Linked DNA regions of Homo sapiens. The protein of the gene in region 1 interacts with the protein of each later gene in a pairwise test. Each region holds a gene or a part of one and is shown on either strand. Other genes may lie near its edges.

Region 1 (3,942 bases):
AGTAGCTGGGATTATAGGCACATGCCATCATGCCTGGCAGATTTTTTGTATTTTTAGTAGAGACGGGGTTTCACCATGTTAGCCAGGATGGTCTCAATCTCCTGACCTTGTGATCCGCCCACCTCGGCCTCCCAAAGTTTGGGATTACAGGTGTGAGCCACCGTGCCCGGCCGAATATGTATGTTTAGCCAAGCCATTCGACATAAAGCTCCTGCCTCTTTTTAAGGGTCTGTCTCTGGTTTTGACCAGAAGCCCACCTCCCAGCCTGCAGGTTGTAACCCTTTATAAGAAATAAAGTCAGCCTGGCACGGTGGCTCATGACTGTAATCCCAGCACTTTGGGAGGCTGAGGTAGGAGGATCACTTGAGCTCAGGAGTTTAAGATCAGCCTGGGCAACATAATGAGACCCCCGTCTCCACAAAAAATAAAAAAAAATTAGCTGGGTGTGGTGTGAGAGCCTGTGGTCATGGCATCTGGCATGATTTTTATAAAGATAGTTTTATTTTAAGTATAAGAGTAGTTTTTGGGTAAGGTGTGGTGGCTCACCCCTGTAATCCTAGCACTTTGGGAGGCTGAGGTGGGTGGATTGCTTGAGGCCAGGAGTTTGATATCAGCCTGGCCAACATGGTAAAAAATGCAATGATCCTAGCCCTTGCCTCTTCCTGTACTTAAGATACTGTCTGACAGGATTAATGATTATGCTTCTGTGACCTATAAACAGATGTACTCTTGCACCCAAACCTTGATGAGATTTATGCTCTAATGTAACTTCTGAGCACATTTGATGTAATTTCTGAGCACATGGAGAGCCGCCACCACCAGTGTATAAACTGTCGGAAACACTGCTTTGGAGCAGTCTAGCAGAAACTCCCTGAAAGGCTCTCCCGGGTTGCAATTCTTGGTAAGACTTCTGAATAGAACTAACTTTAAATATTTAAAAGCTTGTTTTTTTTTTTCTTTAGTTGACATAACAAAGCATACCTTAGAAGTCTTTTTTTTTTTTTTTTTTTTTTTTTGAGACGGAGTTTCGCTCTTGTTGCCCAGGCTGGAAATGGCGCGATCTCGGCTCACCGCAACCTCCGCCTCCCGGGTTCAAGTGATTCTCCTGCCTCAGCCTCTGGAGTAGCTAGGATTACAGGCATGCGCCACCACGCCCGTCTACTTTTGTATTTTTAGTAGAGACGGGGTTTCTCCATGTCGGTCAGGCTGGTCTCAAATTCCCGACCTCAGGTGATCCGCCCACCTCGGCCTTCCAAAGTGCTGGGATTACAGGCATGAGCCACTGCACCCAGCCAGAATTCTTTTTCCTCTTACAGAAAAGGAAAGGTTTCACCATGTTGGCCAGGCTGGTCTTGGACTCCTCGCCTCAAGTGATCCACCTGCCTCGGCCTCCCAAAGTGTTGGGATTACAGGAGTGAGCCACCGCTCCCGGCCTGTACTTAGTTCTTTTAAAGAGAAAACTGGCAGGGCGCAAAACTGGCCAACATGGAGAAACCTTGTCTCTTCTAAAGAAACAAAAATTACCGGGCATAATCCCAGCTACTCGGGAGGCTGAGGCAGGAGAATCGCTTGAAGCCGGGAGGCGGAGGTTGCAGTGAGCCGAGATCGCGCCATTGCACTCCAGCCTGGGCGACAGAGCGAGACCCTGTCTCAGAAAATAAAAAATAAATAAAGAGAAAAAAATACTGACTTTCAGCACCAACTTGTGGTCCCAGGTAAGTTTCCACGCTGGTACTTTAGCCCTGGGCTCGAACCTGCGGACACGCTGTGGCTGCAACTCCCCGCCCGCCAGACCTCAGTACGCAGCGCGGCTGGTGAGAAACATAATGCACTCTGACTTCCACGCGTGGAATGGGGAGATGGACTGCACGGCGGGCGGACCTGCTCGGGCTGATGGACGGCAGGTGGACTGATGTGCGCAGGGACTGGCGGCAGCGCGGTCAGAGCCAGTCAGCCAAAGCCAGGCCAGCACAATAGACTGTCCCGGTTCCCGCCAGGAGGCGGCCGAGCACCAACTGTACGGTACTGCGCCTGCGCCGCGACCGCCAACGCGCCCAGTCTACGCTTGCGCGGCGCAACAGGGCCGACTGCAGCTGGAAGATGGCGGCGTCCGTGGTCTGTCGGGCCGCTACCGCCGGGGCACAAGTGCTATTGCGCGCCCGCCGCTCGGTGAGGTGGTGGCGAGAGCGCGGGGCTTCGGGACAGGGCTTCGGGAAGCGGACAGGTGTGGGCTGTTAGCAGTGGCAGGTCGAGGTGGGGAGGACGCGGGGTCAGGGCCGTGGGAAGGTCACGGCGGAGGGCGGGGAAAGGTATCTCGCCGCTTGCCTAGGGGCGGGGTTCGGGGGTCCTCCTGAGGACCTGGGAGGTGGGGAGCGATCCCCTGACCGAGTCCTCACTCGCGGCTGTTCCCTTCCACAGCCGGCCCTGCTGCGGACGCCAGCCTTGCGGAGTACGGCAACCTTCGCTCAGGCGCTCCAGTTCGTGCCGGAGACGCAGGTTAGCCTGCTGGACAACGGCCTGCGTGTGGCCTCCGAGCAGTCCTCTCAGCCCACTTGCACGGTGAGTTGGGGACGCTTTTGGGGAGAGGGCCTCCAGGTTGGGCCTGCCGTCTTTTCCCTGGTTGGGGTGTGACCTTGGGCTCGAGTCTTCCCGTTTGTGGTTTGGGTTCGGACCCAGGACCACTCACCCCGAGAATGGCCCCATTCCCTACCCTAGCCACGCCTTGGCTTCACGGGACAATCTTCACTATAAGCCAACATTATTTAGCATATAATGCCCGTTAAGTAGGCGGCCAAATTCTTTTCCAGCCTTTTGTTAAGGAGCCCATATAAGGGAAGTGATCATGTCTCCTCTTATAATGCGGAAAATGGGATTCAGACACCTTAGGTGACTTGCAGGGGTCCAGGTCTGTCAGCCTCACTGCCCAAGGTCATAATCTCCAGGCTAGACCAGAAATACATTTTAGGAAGCAAATGCATTTTAACAGTACAATGAAATGTGTGATTTTCCAAAAAATACAAATTCTCTAAATTGACACAAGAAATCTTGAGTCACAGATAGATATATGAATAGGTGAGAAGATTCCCAAGAAATAATTATCTCCTCCTCCTTTCAGCCCCCAGCCCCAGGGCCAGATGTTTTTATTGACACATCCTTTTAGTTTTCCAGAAACAATGTCCTGCGATTTAAATTGTTACTAAGCATAGGAAAAGGTGGCCTGCAACTTCCTTGTTATATGTCACTTGTTATAGTAAAGAATGCTATATTACATGAACTCTAAAATGTGCTAGATTGTAAGGAGCTGTCTGTGCTCCAGTGCCAGAGAAAGAATCTCAAGAATCTTGCCAATTTTAATCAAAGGATACTATAGATTGTAAAATGCCTCTTGCATTCCAAGATGTTAGATGTGAAATACATGTTCATCTAAGATTGTGTGATATATGGTATATGCATTGACATCTCTTAGGAAAGCAAATATCACATGTTCTCACTTATCAGTGGGAGCTAAAAAATACGTACATACAGATGTAGAGAGTGGAATGATGGACAGTGAAGACTTGGAAGGATGAAGGGGTGGATGATGAGAAACTACTTAATGGGTCCAGGCCTGGAGGCTCACACCTGTAATCTCAGCACTTTGGGAGACCAAGGCAGGCGGATCAGCTGAGGCCAGGAGTTCAAGACCAGCCTGGCAAACATAGTGAAGCCCCATCTCTACTAAAAATACAAAAATTAGCCATGCATGGCACACGCCTGTAATCCCAGCTCCTGGGGAGACTGAGGCAAGAGAATCGCTTGAACCCGGGAGGCAGAGATTGCAGTGAGCCGAGATGGAGCCACTGCACTCCAGCCTGGGTGAGAGAGCGAGAGTCCATCTCAAAAAAAAAAAAAGAAATTACTTAATGGGTACAAGGTTTGTTATTCTGGTGATGGATAATTCAG
Region 2 (3,600 bases), on another chromosome or scaffold:
TTACATTTGGGGAAACAGGACAGACGGGTTAAGTGATCTGTCACACAGCAGGTTAGGAACAGAGCCATGACTCCTACCCCTCAAAGCCTATTTGCAGAAGCAGGGGTGACTAACTTTCTTGCTAGGAGCTTCCTGTCCCCACCCTCCTCTCCTCCCCTGATCTCCAGCACCAGAATCTGCAGCTCTTAGATGAATTTGCTTTAGAAAAAATATACCCTGCCTGCAGTAGGGCCGAGGACTTTCCATGCTAGGGCTTGAGTTCCTGCCCCAGCTAAAGACCTCATCTAAGGTCAAACACTGACCGTGTCCCTGCCTCTAGGGTGACCCTGGACCTAGTCATATACTGACTCCTATTCGAGTTGCATACTGATCCCGAATCCTGGCCAGATTTCCCTGATGCTGGTCAATGGGCTGGCCCTTGACCCCCTGTCCTTGTCTGGATGCTGGTCTAAGCCACACACTAACCTATAACCCAGAGGGACTTCCTGACCCTGCCCCAGACTGACCCATGACCCTTGCCATAGATTGGTCCCTAAACTCAGCCACAGACTCCACAGACTGGCCCTTAACCCTTGTCACAGAGTGACTCCTGATTCCTGCCACAGAGTAACCCTTGCCCCAGGCCATAGTCAGATTCTAGGCCTAGGCAGAGCTCTAGCCCCTCGGGAACCACCCAGTCCTAGCCCCCTCCCCAGGGACTCTGCCTTTCCCAAGAGACCCCCACCAGAAACACGGACCCTGGCCAGCCCCTCACCTCCCAGCTTTGGTGATGATCATTTCTGTTCCCACAGAGCTGAACTCCTTCCATAGCTCCCGGTTCTCCAGGCTCAGGCTGACCCCCGGGAGGGAATGGAGGGCCTCTGGAGCTGATGGGGCCGGCTCAGTGCCCATGGCAGGGGGCAGAAGGGGCAGAGGTGGGTGCGCGGCCAGGGTGCGGGGAGCAGCCTCCATCCCGGAGAGGAAGCAATCCAGTTTAGGGGTGTCCAGTTCTGGAAGCCGGGGAAGAATGAGGAGCCAGCCGAGGGCCACAGCCCCCCTATTCTCCTACCCAGGAGCTGGTCCCAACGCTCACCGGGGTAGCGGTAGCCCTCCGCTAGGGCGGGTGGGAAGCTGGAGTCGGCCCCAGGTTGGGCGGGCCCCAGGCGGTAGCCGGCCCCCAGGGACGGGTACAATTCTCGTGGATGGTACATGTTGTAGTTCCGTCTGGCCTCAGGTCTCGCTGCTTAGGGCCCCCGGTGCTGCGAGATGCCCCCTTTATAGCTCACAGCTCAGCCCCTTCCAGATCCAGGATCACAGCCCCTCCCCTCTTTGGGGCCCTGGAGTTGGGCTGGGGTGGAGACCCCTGGGGCCTCGAAGGGGTCCGAGAGGGGGTCGGATACCTGGGTACGGTCCCCTCCTCCCCTCCCTCCCCACCCCGGGAGGCTTCATTAGCCTCGACCCCCTGCCCCCTCATTACATAATTAACTCCTCGGCTTGATTGATCCCCAGGGCTCGGACAGGGACGCAGTTTGGCGCTTCCGGCCAGCTGGTCCCCGTTCCCACGGTGGGGAGCCCCGGCTAGGGATAAGCTGGGGGGCGGGGCCTGGAACCTGGACGGAGCCAAGAGTCCCGGGACACACCTTGGCGCCCCAGACCTTCTGGCAGGTGACCGCCCTCCGCCCCCCTTCACTTGGAGGCCGGGCCCTGGAGGGAAGCAGCGTGAACAGAGGGAAAGTGCAGGCTAGAGGGACGCGGCCTGAGCTGATTTCACAGGGCACTCGGGGCCGCGAGGAGGCCGCAGCCCAGTCCCGAGCACCGTAGTCCTCCCTGGTCCCCATGCTAAAAAAACCTCCATCCCGAGCCAAGCCTCCAAAGTTCGAAGGCGCTCACAGTCCGACAGCTTCTGACGCCTCGCGCCAGGGTTTCCCGAAGGTCCCGCGCTGGGGAACCCTCGGAACTACACTTCCCGGCAGGCTCAGCGCTGAGGCGCGCCCGAAGGAGCCGGACGGACCACGCGGGGGCCGCTGGGAGTTGCAGTCCGACCGCGAGGGGGCTGCGAGGCCGGCGGCGCGGTTGCCTCCCTGGGACGCTGCCCCTAGGCGGCGGCCAAACGCTGCAGATGAGCAGACGCAGATCAGCCGAGGTCACGGCGTAGGCAGCCAGAGTGGGCTCAGGACCTCCGCCAGCAGTGAAACCGTCCCGGTTCCCGGAGACCCAGCTTGGACGGCTGTGCCTACCCCATGCCCCGCCGGGGCTCAGAACCGCACAGGTCTATAGGGGCGGAAATCTCCGCTTGAGCTCCCCCTTCCCGGATTACACGCGAGCCTGAGCTGTCTCCACTCCATTGTTTTATTATGTACAAACGCTACAGAACGAGGGGGACAGACACGCGTGGGGTAAGAAGGGCCTGGTGGGAGGAGTTCACAGAGCAGACGGTGCACTGGGACCAGGAGAGCAGAACACAGGCCATAACTATAGGGCAGGTGGGGCAGGAACGGGTTAAAAACGAGATCCAAGCCAGCCAGATCGCAGGAGGTGCGGGGGCGTCGTCCCCCTTCTGTTCTCCCCCCAAGGTCACAGTGCATGCAATAAAATATATATACAGGAGCTAGATCCGTCCTCTGCAGGGGCTCTGAGGGTCCAGAGCTCCCTTCGGGTGGCGGGAAGCCAGTGGCGCTCCCTGGCGGCCAGGCCGGGCTGGAGCCACATGCGTCGGGGGAGCGGGGGTCAGTCCCAGCCGTTGTCTTTGATCATGTGGTTGAGTTCAATGATGTACTTCCCCTCTTTGTACTTCTGGCTGCTCTCAAAGGCCTGTTCCTGAAAGGAGGGGCGGGACCGTCATCCCCGGAGCAACAGTCTCACCACAAGGCACTGGGGTTGGGAAGTGGACATGAGTGGCCCCATTTTACATATGAGGAAACTGTGGCCCAGAGGGGCAGGGCCGTATTTCTCACAAACACAGAGTAGAATAGAACTCCCTGACTCAAAGGTACTTTTTTAAGTACTAATGATGGCTCCAACAGAGAAGATAGGGAAGTGGCTAAAAGATTTCACAGTTCAGGGTTTGCAAACTGGTAGCTTCATGGCCATTTTGGCCTACAACATGTATTATGTTTGGACAGCAGACAGTTTAATAAAAATAACTTTAAAGTATTAAAATATAAGTAGGCCTTGCTCACTCCAGTTTGCCCAGCCTGCCCCCAACTCCCAACCCTGCCAATCTATGCTACCCTTTACACATCTACAGTATCTGCTTGGCCTTGCAGGCACTTGAGGTTTTTTTGTTTGTTTGGTTTTGAGAGGGAGTCTTGCTCTGTCGCCCAGGCTGGAAGTGCAACGGCGCGATATCGGCTCACTGCAACCTCCGCTTCCCGGGTTCAAGTGATTCTGCTGCCTTGGCCCCGAGTAGCTGGGATTACAGGCGCCCACCACCACGCCGAGCTAATTTTTGTATTTTTAGTAGAGATGGGGTTTCACCATGTTAGTCAGGCTGTTCTCGAACTCCTGACCTCAGGTGATCCACCTGCCTCAGACTCCCAAAAGTGCTGGGATTACAGGCGTGAGCCACCACACCCAGCCTGGCACTTGAGTTTTTGACCTCTTGTTTAGGCCAGCTCTTTA

The links. Proteins that work in one complex are often made in the same cells at the same time.
Region 2: the proteins of UQCRC1 (region 1) and TBX6 interact in binary tests that used the Homo sapiens proteins (3 or more experiments, as listed by UniProt).

What each region holds. Positions count from the first base shown.
Region 1 is NC_000003.12:48,607,779-48,611,720, reverse strand, and holds the start of UQCRC1 (cytochrome b-c1 complex subunit 1, mitochondrial precursor), read left to right. Parts: upstream 1-2,074; 5' UTR 2,075-2,100; coding exon 2,101-2,169; intron 2,170-2,418; coding exon 2,419-2,559; intron 2,560-3,942. UniProt on the Homo sapiens protein: Component of the ubiquinol-cytochrome c oxidoreductase, a multisubunit transmembrane complex that is part of the mitochondrial electron transport chain which drives oxidative phosphorylation.
Region 2 is NC_000016.10:30,090,004-30,093,603, forward strand, and holds the start of TBX6 (T-box transcription factor TBX6), read right to left. Parts: upstream 1,922-3,600; 5' UTR 1,870-1,921; intron 1,532-1,869; exon of another isoform or gene 1,239-1,531; 5' UTR 1,191-1,238; coding exon 1,073-1,190; intron 990-1,072; coding exon 755-989; intron 1-754. Other genes in the region: YPEL3 (protein yippee-like 3), read right to left, coding at 2,707-2,796. UniProt on the Homo sapiens protein: T-box transcription factor that plays an essential role in the determination of the fate of axial stem cells: neural vs mesodermal. Acts in part by down-regulating, a specific enhancer (N1) of SOX2, to inhibit neural development.